Linked DNA regions of Homo sapiens. The protein of the gene in region 3 purifies or fractionates together with the protein of the main gene of each other region. This does not show direct contact. Each region holds a gene or a part of one and is shown on either strand. Other genes may lie near its edges.

The links.
Region 1: the proteins of HACE1 (region 3) and RARB purify together in Homo sapiens (affinity purification with western blotting, with the first as the bait; one study listed by BioGRID). This does not show direct contact.
Region 2: the proteins of HACE1 (region 3) and RARG purify together in Homo sapiens (affinity purification with western blotting; one study listed by BioGRID). This does not show direct contact.

What each region holds. Positions count from the first base shown.
Region 1 is NC_000003.12:25,581,739-25,585,352, reverse strand, and holds part of RARB (retinoic acid receptor beta), read right to left. Parts: intron 1-3,614. UniProt on the Homo sapiens protein: Receptor for retinoic acid. Retinoic acid receptors bind as heterodimers to their target response elements in response to their ligands, all-trans or 9-cis retinoic acid, and regulate gene expression in various biological processes.
Region 2 is NC_000012.12:53,229,397-53,233,755, reverse strand, and holds the start of RARG (retinoic acid receptor gamma), read left to right. Parts: upstream 1-1,546; 5' UTR 1,547-1,782; intron 1,783-2,520; 5' UTR 2,521-2,587; intron 2,588-4,359.
Region 3 is NC_000006.12:104,857,064-104,861,400, forward strand, and holds the start of HACE1 (E3 ubiquitin-protein ligase HACE1), read right to left. Parts: upstream 2,857-4,337; 5' UTR 2,580-2,856; coding exon 2,504-2,579; intron 2,484-2,503; exon of another isoform or gene 2,316-2,483; intron 1-2,315. UniProt on the Homo sapiens protein: E3 ubiquitin-protein ligase involved in Golgi membrane fusion and regulation of small GTPases. Acts as a regulator of Golgi membrane dynamics during the cell cycle: recruited to Golgi membrane by Rab proteins and regulates postmitotic Golgi membrane fusion.

The DNA.
Region 1 (3,614 bases), on a different chromosome or scaffold from region 3:
CTCTATGGGTCTTTGCCTTCCCCTTGGGCCTCAGCTGCCTCACCTGCAAAATGTGGACAATAACAGGACCCCTGAGGGCATAGTGCGACTTAACAATAATACCGAACATAACTGAGGCCTGTAGGGTGCCACACACTGTTCCAAGCTCTACGTGCTACTTCATTTCATGCTTTCTAGAGCCTGAAAGGAAGCTTCTATTGCCATCTTCATTGTAAATACGAGGCAACTGAGGCTCAGAGAGGGAAGTAACTTTCCCAAGGTCACACAGCTAGTAAGCAGCAGAGCCAGATTTTGAACCCAGGCAAGCTAGTTTCAGAGCCCACATTCAACAGCTGGGGCAAGCTGAAGGAAAGCAGGATCTATGTGGAGCCAGGATTGCGTGCAGTGGGGTGGGGGCGGAGGGTGAGGGGAGGAGATAAATACTGTGGCAAAAGTAGGGGCAGGCCAGGCGGGGTTGGAGTTGACTGTAGAGTCCAACAGGGCAGGGACCCTCCACTCTGCCATCTCACATCCACGAGGTAAGTGCTCAGTAAATACATGTGAGAATCATGACTTCAACCAATATTGACGCAGTGCTACATGACAAGACAGAGCAAACGTTTAAACCAAAAGTCAGACCGTGGTACACCTCTGCTCAAAACCCAGTGACTCTATAGGATACCAAGAAGGAGAATCTGTGCACGATCACAGGCCCCACTCCAGGATCTAAGGTCTCGCCCCCGCTGGCTCACTCCCTTCCAGGCACACTCACTTCCTCCAACCTGCCGGGGCTTCCTCTGCCCCAGGGCCTTTGAACTCCACTCTCTCTAGGCTCCCCACGACTCACACACCCCTCCCATCAGTGTCTTTTCTTGGGCCTGGCTCTTTCTGGGAAACACTGGGAAATTGTTTCTTCATTCAGGTTTCTTCAAATGCCACCTGTGTCTGAGCTACAGAAACAAGCCCCAGCCCTCCTTTGTTGTGCTCCATCCCTGATTCTGCTTCTGTTCTCCTCTGTTGCATGTAAGACGCTGTCTAATCCACGTATCTGCTTGCTTACTGTCTGTGTCCCCCCACCAGGAGAAGGTCGGCTCCATGAGGGCTGGGGTTTTAGCTTGGTTCCCTCTGCTGCCTCCTCAGAGCCTAGAATAGTGCGCGGCACACAGTAGGTCATCAACAGATATTTGCGGAAGGAAGAAGAGAAGGATGGGAGGGAGGGAAGAGGGGTGGAGGGAGAGAAGAGGCAGAGAAACCGAAGTCTGACCACCTCAAGGTTTGTTTTTACGATTTTTATTTTAAGTTGAGAGAGACTTGATCCTAATTACGTGCAGAGGAGAAGAGGCAGGTGAGAGAGAGTGGAAGAAAAGGCATAAAGGAGATTGAACGAGAAGGAAACATGGGGGCAGAGCCAGGTGAAGGGGTCACTCCTGCTCCGGGGCTCCCTCACTTGCCTGAACACAGCCCTAGGATGCTACCAACTCTTGAGTGAAGAAAGAAACATAAAAAACCCATCTGCAGTGGTTATGAAGAGGCTGCCTGTCTTAATAGAGACATTTTTGGCTACTTGGCTCCTGTGGGAAAACATGAAACTCAAAGTGTGGCCTCAGAATCTTCTGGACCCAACCTCGTGAAGGAAGCCCGGCTGTGGGCTGCCCACTAAATGGTCCCCACCGAGCAAAGGCTAGGATGGGAAATTCCCCTGGAAGGTGAGCAAGGGCAGGACAGGTGAGGCCTTCCATCCCCATCTGCCTGTATTATGAGGGCTCTCACCTCATGATTCTGAATCAACCCTTCCTGGAGAGCCTCGGCTGCGTGTCCCGCAGCTGACCGCATCTTCCTGTGAAAGTGCCAGCCCTGGCAGGCGTGCAGTTGGAAGCATTACCTTGTCTTGTTGAGAGACCACACACAACACGAGACACGTGGCTCTGAACAGGCGGTACTCAATCAGGGCTGGTGACCCTTGAGACAGCCTGGGTTTCCTTTCTAGGGTCTGAGAATAACCTCAGCCTGGGTCTGTCTGTCTGTCCATCCGCCTGGTTACTCTGTCCCACTCTATCCATATATCAATGACTTAGATAAGAAGATTCTTCTAAACAGCTCTGCCAGTTAATATTCTCATTCAAAATATGCTCTTTGAACTTGCGTACTTTCAGGATCTTGTGATTAATTGCCTTTGCTACAAATTCTTGGAAACAAGCTCTTGCCTAGGGCCAAATGGGTATTCCTTCGAACTTTGTCTGGTATGATTGGAGGTCTTTGCCCTTTAACTATCGGGACATTTTCCTCCCTGGCCTATTGCACCCCAACCCAGACTCCTCACCCCCATGGCCCAGGAAGGAGTGGTTGAAAGTTTCCTGATTCCCACCACAGGGCTGAAATTGCCCACGTTAACCCAGCTTTGGCCTTGTCATCAACATCATTGGCTAAGTACCTACTACGTGCTAGGTATTACAGCTGTTAATGTATTTAATCCCATTTAAGTAATTACCTTATTTAATGCCTTGTTGATTTGCATTTCTATTTTGTACATAGGTAAACAGAGGCTTAGAGAAGTTAAATAACTTCACCAAGGTCACAAAAATTGGTTTCTGTTCTACTGACTCTACCAAGGGGCTAATGGCTAATGCTTGGATCCATGGGGCTGGAAGAGTGCTGCAGGATTCAGTGTAAGCTGAGATGTGGGAAGAGAGGTGCTGGAGGCAGGAAGGGGATTTCTAAATTGAGGAAGGGGATTTAAATCTTGTGGAGACTGCACCCTGATCACTAAGTGTGTGGCTGTGCAGAAATAAGACACTTTCCCGGAGGATCTCAAAGCATACCTCTCACTCCATATGTTGGGGCTGAGTATCACAAACTGTCATCATCTGGCAACTAGACAAAAGAAGGATTAAGAAACAAGCAGAAGGTCAAGGTCAGAGCCTGAGGCCTGGGAAGGCTCCAGGCCCTGCTGGGTGGCTGCGTGATGCAGGGCTGTCAGAATGACACAGCATTGCTTGCTGTGGACTTGATTTGCTGTGAGTCACCTCACAGACCACTCAGACACTGTGGTGGTAACTCCAGTCTCTGCTAATATCTTGGAAGTGTTATGAGGTTTAGGGGAAATTCTACTGAGTGTTACATTTTAAGTTCTTGTCAGGAAAGCATTAAAAGGCCCAGTAATTTTCATTCATTATTCTAATAGCTCATTGTTAACATCATTATTGATTCGCCCACATTGTCTCTGTTACTCTCTGGTGGTCTAGCTCACTGTGGCCCACAACTCTCTCATCTCTGCTATCCCTAAGGGCTCCTGTTTATGCTTCATATCCTCTTTTACATCCTGTTAGGCCTGGAGGTAGCCCAGTACCACTCTGGCCGTATACCCCACTCCACCCCGATCTTGCACCACCCCCATCTGTGACCTTGGGAAGATCCCTGCCCTCCTGTCTTAGTTCAGGCTACTGTAACAGAGACCTGGCCCCTTAAACAACAACATTTGCTTCTCCTAGGTCTAGAGGCTGGAAGTCTGAGGTCAGGGAGCTGGCATGGCTGGGTTCTTGGTGAGGGCTCTCATCTTAGGTCACAGCTGCCTTCCTGCTATATCCTCACAAGAAAGAGAAAGGGAGCTCTGGTGGCTTCATCTCCTCATAAGGGCA
Region 2 (4,359 bases), on a different chromosome or scaffold from region 3:
ACCAAGCAAAGTCAACAGCAGCTAGGCCACCTGGGGACGGGACCCTGGAGTATCTATTCCTAGCTCTTCCTATCCCTGGAGTGAAAGAGAGGGCTTGTCTGCACCCCCATTGCCATCTCCCATTCCCTGAGGTAACCACAGCATGCCTCTTCTTTCCCCCATCTCCTTCACCTGACTTTGGCTACCAAAAGCAGCCTTTCCCAGGAGGGAGGACACCTGGCCCCCAGGGGGGAGCAAGGACAAAGCCAAGTAATTCCAGTATGGAAAATGTGACGTGACCCAGGAGTCTGTGTCCCAGGTCCTGGTCACCCTGCGAGCATTGCTGGGGAAGGTACTTTGGGTATGTCTGTCCAGCCTATCAGCCTAGCTCAGACTCTCCCCTTCTCCTCTTTCTCCCTCCCAACTCCAGTCCCCATGGGAGTGTTTGGGATCCGTGCACAGAGCTTGGACTGCAGACCCATTCTTTTCTCTCCCTCTGTCCTCAGTAGAATGCAGAGTGAAACCACTGGGTTCTCTCACTCTAGGGTTGAGAGTCTGTCTATGTTGAAGCAGATAATGCCCCCATCAGACACAGACACTCACTCTCGGCACTGGCATGCGCACGCGCTTGCACAGACACACACACACACACACGCACACACACACACACCCGGAGTCAACAGCATTCATGGCACATCTACCAGGCAGGCAGGCAGGCAGGCCGGTGCTGGCTAGGGCAGACACACACCCTCTGCCTGGGCTTTCTCTCTCACACCCAGCCCAAGGCTCCTCCCACTCCCAGCCACAGTTCCTCCTGCCCTCCTCTCCAGCCTCTCCCCTTCCAAATCCAGGCCTAAAGGTGGGGGACAACTGGCAGCCAGGGACCCAGGCGCCCTAACTCCTGGAGCTTACTCCAGGCAAGATGACAGGGAAGATGTCTGTGAGCCCTGGCCTCAGCACCCCCAGCAACAGCCACTAGTCAACCAGTTTGCTCCTGGGACCAAAGGACTGAGGTGGGCTAGGGGAAGGGAGAGGCTACTTGGATCTGCAGGTGAAGGCTGAGCAAAGAGTAAGGGCAGGAGCATCTATTCTAGATCTGGCATACTCCTGCCCGGCCAATCCAGCACTGGGAGGGAGTGGGTACCGCCCCATTGCCTACCCTGGGGAGGCGCCAGAGACTGGCCTCGCAAGAGTCACAGCCTGGCCACAGACAACTCAACTAGTCCCCCCAAAAGGCAGAAAGGAGAAAAGTGCCAGAGAGAAAAGGTTGGCATCACGGGGCCAGGACACTGACCTCCTCTGCCAGCCGTGCCCGGCCTCCCAGAGGATGGAGTCACGGAAGCCTAGCAAATGGGAAGGGCAGAGACCCAGGCGTCCCGGGCCGCCCCGCCCAGTCCCCCTCCCGCCCACCCATCCCTCCGCCCCCCAGCCCCAGGGCACAGAGGAGGGAGCCGGGCAGGGGCAGGCAGGGGAGGGAGGAGCGAGGGCGGGAGGGGGAGGAGGGAGTTGGGCAGGGAGGGAGGTTGGGGGGGGGGTGGGGAGGGAGAAAAAGAAAGAAAATATTTTCCGTGTCCCCGCCTGCAGAGTCAGTGTGCGGTTTGGGAGAAAATGTGTCGGATATTTTGGGGCGGTCACGTGGGCGGGCGGGCTCCGAGAGGCCCCGGGACAGTCCCAGCCTAGAGCCGTGCCCCCCCAGGAGCCCCCCAGTACGGCGAGCCCCGGACATTGCGACGCTCCATCCAAGAGACTGCCCGACGCCGGGACCTCGGGGCTCCGCCGCCTCCCTTCCCCCTCCCACTCCAGGTGAGTCAGGCGGGGAAGCAGGCTCGCCCGCCCCGTCGCCTGGGTCCTCCGGCGAGGCGGCTGGGGGAGGGGGCGCGGAGGAGCTGCACGGGCGAATGCCCTCCCGAGGCTGGCCAGGCTGGCCGCCGGGCTTGAGGGGGGCTTCTTGCCCCGACCCAGGCCAGTCCTGCTGTGGGAAGGGAATGGGGAAGATTTTAACAGGCTGAGGATGGGCTGGGTCATCTGCCCTTCATTTTGGTGCATAGCAGAGGACAGCATTTGGGGAAGTCTTCAGCCAGGGGGCATTCCTCCTTATATTTTTGTGCTGGGAATGTGAGAGAAGACAGGGTTTCCTCTCGCGGGGAAAGACTACCACCCCCTTACCCCCGGGCTCTGAGGGGTAGATTTGATGTTCCATGCTGGTCCAAGTTCCTCCCTCCCCAGTGGAATGGGACAGCTTGGACATCAGAAGGCAAGGAAAACGTCCAGAGGCAAGTGAGCCTGGCCCTCCGCGTCCAGGAGTTCCGAAGGACTGGTGCATAGGATAGGGATCTGTGAACTTTCCTTGAAGCGCTGGATTCCCTCCCACACGTTCCCAGCCCAGGTGCGAGCCTTGGCTCCCTCCAGCCAAGGTGGGGGGCACCTCTGGAGTATTCTTGAGGGAAGCCCAAATGGAACAAAGAAAGAGCAGGAAGACCGGGACAGGGACCCAGGAGTGCTGGTCCCAGAGTTCCACTGACGCTGCCTCTCTGTCTTTAGCAGCTACGGCCCAGTTCCCTCAACCTGACCCAGTATGTAGAAGCCAGTCTCTGCAGGCGGCCAGCGGGTAAGAAGATGCTTGGTTGTTAGTGGTGGTGGGGGCAGGGGAGCCTGAGTAGGAGGTCTTCAGGGCAAGAAACTGAGATGACTGTCCCGCTTTAGGGCTCTGGTCCTGGGCAGCTGGAATCCCAATCCTCAAGTCTGAGGCTTCTGCCCTTAGGGTCAGATGCTGAGTTGGGGTCAAGGACCATAGCCAGCATCTCATATCCTTGAGGCAAGTAGAGAGAAGACAGGGGAGTGGGGGTAGTGTGTGCAGGGAGCCTGGAGCTTGGGTATCCCATATAGACAGACATACACACACACACACACACACACACACACACACACACACACACACACGCACTGTGGCCTACAGCCTAGTAGGCAGCATGGGGCACGCCCCCCCACACCCCGGCACACCCCCACCCCTGGCTCAGAAAGCCACCTAACTGGCACCTCCAGTTCCCCCCTCTGCCCCACCCTGTCCATGCCCTCTGATGCCCACACACATTCCACTGGCATTGCCTGCCTGCCTCCTGGGCACTGCCCCTCCCTGGGGCTAGTAGGGTGGAGGGAGGGCACCTGGGGATGAGAGGTGGAGACTCAAGGGTCTGGACTCCCCCAGGGATGGCACAATGCCAAGGAAGCCTGGCCCACTGCTGCCTCCTGGGGAGCAGGCTGGGGGCCCAGGCTAGAGCAGAGGATGCCTGGGTTCTCTGCCCAGGCTGGAGATGGGGTCATGGAAAAAGGTGGTCGTGTTTATACAGAGGGGAGGGGGGCAGCGGGTGGAGAGTGGCCGACAAGAGCAGCTTTGTTCCAGGCTCTGGAGCGGGCAGGGCGACAGGGAAACACACCCCCCTCCATCCGGCAGCCCCCTTCATCCATGCCCTCCCCTCAACTCCACCTCAGCTCTAAGAGAAGCAGCTTTGTAAGAGCCCCTCTCCCCTAGTCTGTCATCCCCGCTGCCCCACCATTTGAGATGGCATCTTAGTAGAGGAAGAATGTTCTCTACTTTCCATGAGTCCCCCAAAGAACCAAGGCACCTGGGGCCTCAGTTTAGGACTTCCTTTTACTCTGCACTGCCTTCAATTCCTTAGTCCATTCTCCTACCCTGGGTTTAAGACCCTCCCCTTCTCTTCCCAGCCACGACAGAACCAAGGCTCAGAAATGGGAGGAATCTCTACCCCCTTCCTCTCTTCACTCAACTCCCAAGTCCCTTCTCTGAGGCAAAATAAGAGGAAGGCCAAGGACAACTCTCATTGGCTCACATGCAGCATCATTCCTTGGTGAGGATCAGGAGCTGAGCATCCCTCTGTGGGGACCCCCACTGCCCTACCTGCCTGTGTTTCCCATTGGTAGGTGAGAAGCAAAGACAAGGAGGGCTAAGGCAGAGAGCCCTGTTCCCAGTCTAAGCCAAGTCTGGGGAACATGGGGATGGGGGAGTCCTCTAGTAGCTTCTCACCCTTGTCATTGGAGGGGTTAATCCACCTGGAATGTGGCCTGGCCAGTTGAGCTGTGGCCCAGGGGCCTCAGGGGCCCCCAAACTCCTGGCTCCATCAGGGCTTAACTAGGGATGAGAACTTCGGAGGGGAATAGGAGAAGGAAAAGGAGAGGGACCCTGGAGGCTTGGAGCTCAGACTTTTAGGGCCTGCGAAGACACTGGGCTAAAGAGTTTGAGGGTGCTGGGTGTATGGGTGGTGCCATGGTGAGGGGCAGGGGATGCTTCATTCATAAGGGCTGAGTGAAATGTGATGGCGTTGGGGTCTGGGTTCTTGTAACCTCCATGACAGTTTACCCTCA
Region 3 (4,337 bases):
TTCTAAATTTAGAGAGATCTCAGAGTTTCCATTCAGCTCTTAAAATGTAAGCACAAATGTGGATTTGTATCAGTAGGAATGTTATATATATATTTACATATATATATTTATTTACATATATATTTACATATATATTTACATATATATATATATATTCCTATATGTATGATATACTTTAAAGAGCCAAGCTCAGAGAATTCAAAGACTCATCAGAGCTTAGAGACAAAGATAAATTAAATTCAAGGAACAAAATGAACATTATAATCAAAGAAAAGCAAATGCAAACGATGCCATTTTTGCCTATGTGGAAAAGTTTTACTTTTACTAATAATACTCTAGTTTCTGGGCACTCTCGGACTGCTGGTGGAACTTTCCAAGGAGTAAGTTGAGAAACTGATATGTTGAGCCTTAGAAATGTATTGTAGATATTCTTCTTGTAAGAATTAACCCTAAGGAAGTATTTAGAGGCAGACTATGTCTTAAATACAAAGCTGTTTCTCATAAAATCAGTTTAAAAACAGTATTTAGATTCAACATTTGTTACATGCATCCTATGAAATTCTGAAGTCATTAAGCCTATTGAAGAATACAAAAAAAAAAAAACATTTGGGGCGGGGCACGGTGGCTCACGCCTGTAATCCCCCAGCACTTTGGGAGGCCGAGGCGGGCAGATCACGAGGTCAGGCGATCGAGACCATCCTAGCTAACACGGTGAAACCCCGTCTCTACTAAAAATACAAAAAATTAGCCGGGCCTGGTGGCAGGGGCCTGTAGTCCCAACTACTGGGAAGGCTGAGGCAGGAGAATAGCGTGAACCCCGGAGGCAGAGCTTGCAGTGAGTCGAGATGGCGCCACTGCACTCCAGCCTGGGCGACAGAGTGAGACTCCGTCTCAAAAAAAAAAAAAAAAAAGGATGTTTTCTAAACACAAAATAAAAGACTATATGCAACATGATTTTAACTTGTTAGGGAGGGAAAAAGAAATAACAATGGTAACACTGTTTATAACTGGATGGTGAAATGACATATTTTTTTCTATTTTTCTTTATTTTCCAAATTTTCTACAATGAAACTATATTACTTTTAAAACCAAGTAACATTATCAAAGTCTTCTAAATCACATTTATGTAAAAAATATCGGGATTCAAACTAGACAATATAAATTATACATGTAGTCTTCATAAAGCTATACCAATAATTCGACTACGAAAAATAAGTAAGAGTAGCACTTAAGAAATGGATTCAAAGGTGGAAGTTGGAAAGAAAATATAGAAAAAGTTGAAGCTAGAATCTAGTTACCAAAATCTGAATTCTAAATAGAGACTAGAGACCATTTTTTCAAGAAGATTATCCCCAGGCCAGGCGCGGTGGCTCACATCTGTAATCCCAACACTTTGGGGGGAGCAGGGTGCGGATCACTTGAGCCCAGGAGTTCAAGACCAGCCTGGGGAACATAGTGAGACCTCATCTCTATAAAAGAAAGGAAAGAAAATTATCGCCAAAGTACCCAATCCCACATTTCTTTCATGACCGTCTGCCAAGGTCTCCTTCCCTATCCTACAAACCACCCAGCAGCAATTCAAAGAGAGTTTTGAAAAAGTAAGATAAACTACTACAATTAAGAAAAAAGCTATTCACCAGCTACAACCTCCTCCCAACCCTTCTCTCACTTGGGCATAAAGAGCCAAAAGCTTCTTAGAAGCAGCACTGCTGTCTCCCATCACCACTAAAATGTCTGAATTCCTGACGCTGCAAACAAAACTGCTTATTTTCTCTCCTTGTTATTAGCAGAGTTTTACCTGTCCTGAGGGAACCCTGGCACGCTGAACTAAAAGTCCTGATCCTCAGGGACCATGCCTTATTCCTCTTTGCAGATGCGTCCTAGTTACCAGCTAGCCCACTCAATACTAGTCTGATGAATAAATGAAGAATGAAGGCAGGCATGCATATTAAAGAAAAATATATTGTGTTTACCCATACAGTACTTTAAGAGTACCTGTTTGATGTTTGACAACCCTTTGTTTGCCTGTTATCAAAACAAGGCAGTGCCCCACATTTTAAAAAATAACAAAAATAAAAGCCCGCCTGGCCCCCCGATGCAGCTTAAAGTAAACAGTATCTTTGGATCATCTCTATCCCCAGCTACTGTTAAATGACCCGCAATTATGATGTTTTCTGACTCCGGGTCTCGGGCCTCCGGCTGGTATTCCTGCCCCTTTGCCAAGACCCCTAATCGACAGACGTTGCGAGACCTTTGTCTCGCTCCTCCCAGCAGCGGAACCCCCACCAACCCAGTTTCCTCCCGAAAACTCCCACCTGCCGGGGTGGGAGCGTCGGGCCAGGGGAGTTCGGGGCCCGGGGCCGCCTCTCAGCTCTGGAAAGTAAAAGTGGGCGTTTTCTCAGCTTTCAGTTAGTTTTTCCACCCGACCTTGACGCGGCCGGAGCTCCTGCCCCACTGGCCGCCCCCAGCCCCGCGGCCAGCCTGGCCCCGCGACCCGGCTCACCCTCGGGCAACTCCACGGTGCGCGCGCGGCGCAGCGAGCGCGTCAGGCGGTTGAGTTGCTCCATCGCTCTCTCCATCCTCGGCGCGCCCTCCGCGATCCTCCGCGATCAGCCGCCCCACCGGCGGCCTCCGCGCCCAGAGCCCTACATCTCGCCTGGGCCCGTCCAGCAGGCGGAGACGCGGGCTTGCCCCGGCTAGAGCACTGAGCTGCGAGGGCTGCCTGGGGCCACGTCCTGCGTCCGGGGGCCGGGCTGCTGCCGGACCGACCACCTACAGTACACCCGCCGCCGCCTCTGCTCGCGCCTTTCCTGCAGCCCCCGCCGCCGCGTCCCTCCCGGGCTCGCGTGGCCTTCTGGGAACTGTAGTTTCCAGCTGGCAGAACGGAGCGCCCTGGGCGGAGTCACGTTGGGGGCGCCCAGGCCACGCCAACGCGGGCGCAGGGCTGAGTATGCGGGAAGCCACGCAGCGACTGGGCGTACTCCTAAGCTTCTGGAAAGGCATTCTCACGCCCTGCTCCTCCTACCCTCCTCCAAAGTTGTACAGGAGCAGTTTCCTCCAATTCTATAACTTTACTATAAAACAGATTAGAAATTGGCACAATTGTTCTTAAATCCGTCACCACCTTTCTAGTACTGTATTAGTGCCTTTGTTTCAGGTACCCTACATGAACTGTTTTAAGTATGGTATTTTCATATGTCAAACTTAAAGAGTAATAAAATCAAACAAATCCAAAAGCATATTGTGCTTTTGTCTTCATTGTAAATAACTTGACAATAGCTTAATTAGTTGTTTTTCCTGCCGGGCGGCTTTATGAGGGCAGGGACATTTAATCTTGAACTGTGTTGTATCCCTGTACTTAACAAGGCACCTAGCACAAAGTTAAAGCTCTGGGGAAGATATGAATGATGACAACCTGAAAAAATTTTTTCATTTATTTGGTACAATGCTAAAGTGTCTATGTGATGACACAGCCTAGTGGGAAATCCAAAGGATTTGACTTTGTAAGTTACAAAAAATTTGGATACCTACATTGTGGAAGAAATGAACTCAGTGGCGAAAAATCATATTCATAAGCTCTGCACAGAAGTTGAACACTTGAAACAACAGAAGTTGGAACTTCAAAAAATTAACCCAATCAAAGGGGTAAATGTGAGCCTGGCTAACACCAATATATCTTGGATATATTACCAGTGCCAAGATGATGCTGGAGTGAGGGAGAAACAAAAGGCTTGTCTTTTTCAGCTTCTCTTCCTCAAAGAGACAAAGCTGTTCCTGAAATGAATGGGCACATGTACGTTGATGATGTATGTTGGCTGGCCAAGTGAAAGAGAGTCTCACCTGCCCATTCAGGATATGAAGGGGCAGATGGTGGTTGGCATGTGTTTTCCCTGCCAGTGCCGTCCTAAATCAGTTCCAGCTAGTGACCATTTGTGCCAGTGGTGCCACAGGCACGGGGAAGACCTCTGTAATCTTCACCTAATCAGATGATACCTAAACCAGTCTGGCAACAAGGTGGTAGAGGTCAAAGTTTCAAAAGAATACCAGAGGCTGGGCGCAGTGGCTCATGCCTGTAATCCCAGCACTTTGTGAGGCCAAGGCAGGCGGATCACTTGAGGTCAGGAGTTTGAGACCAGCCTGGCCAACATGGTAAAACCCTGTCTCTACTAAAAATATGTATATACAAAAATTAGCCGGGCGTGGTGGTGTGCCTCTGAAATCCCAGCTACTCGGGAGGCTTAGGCAGGAGAATCGCTTGAACCCGAGAGACAGAGGCTGCAGTGAGCTGAGATCCTGCCATTGCACTCCAGCCTGGGTGACAGAGCGAGACCCTGTCT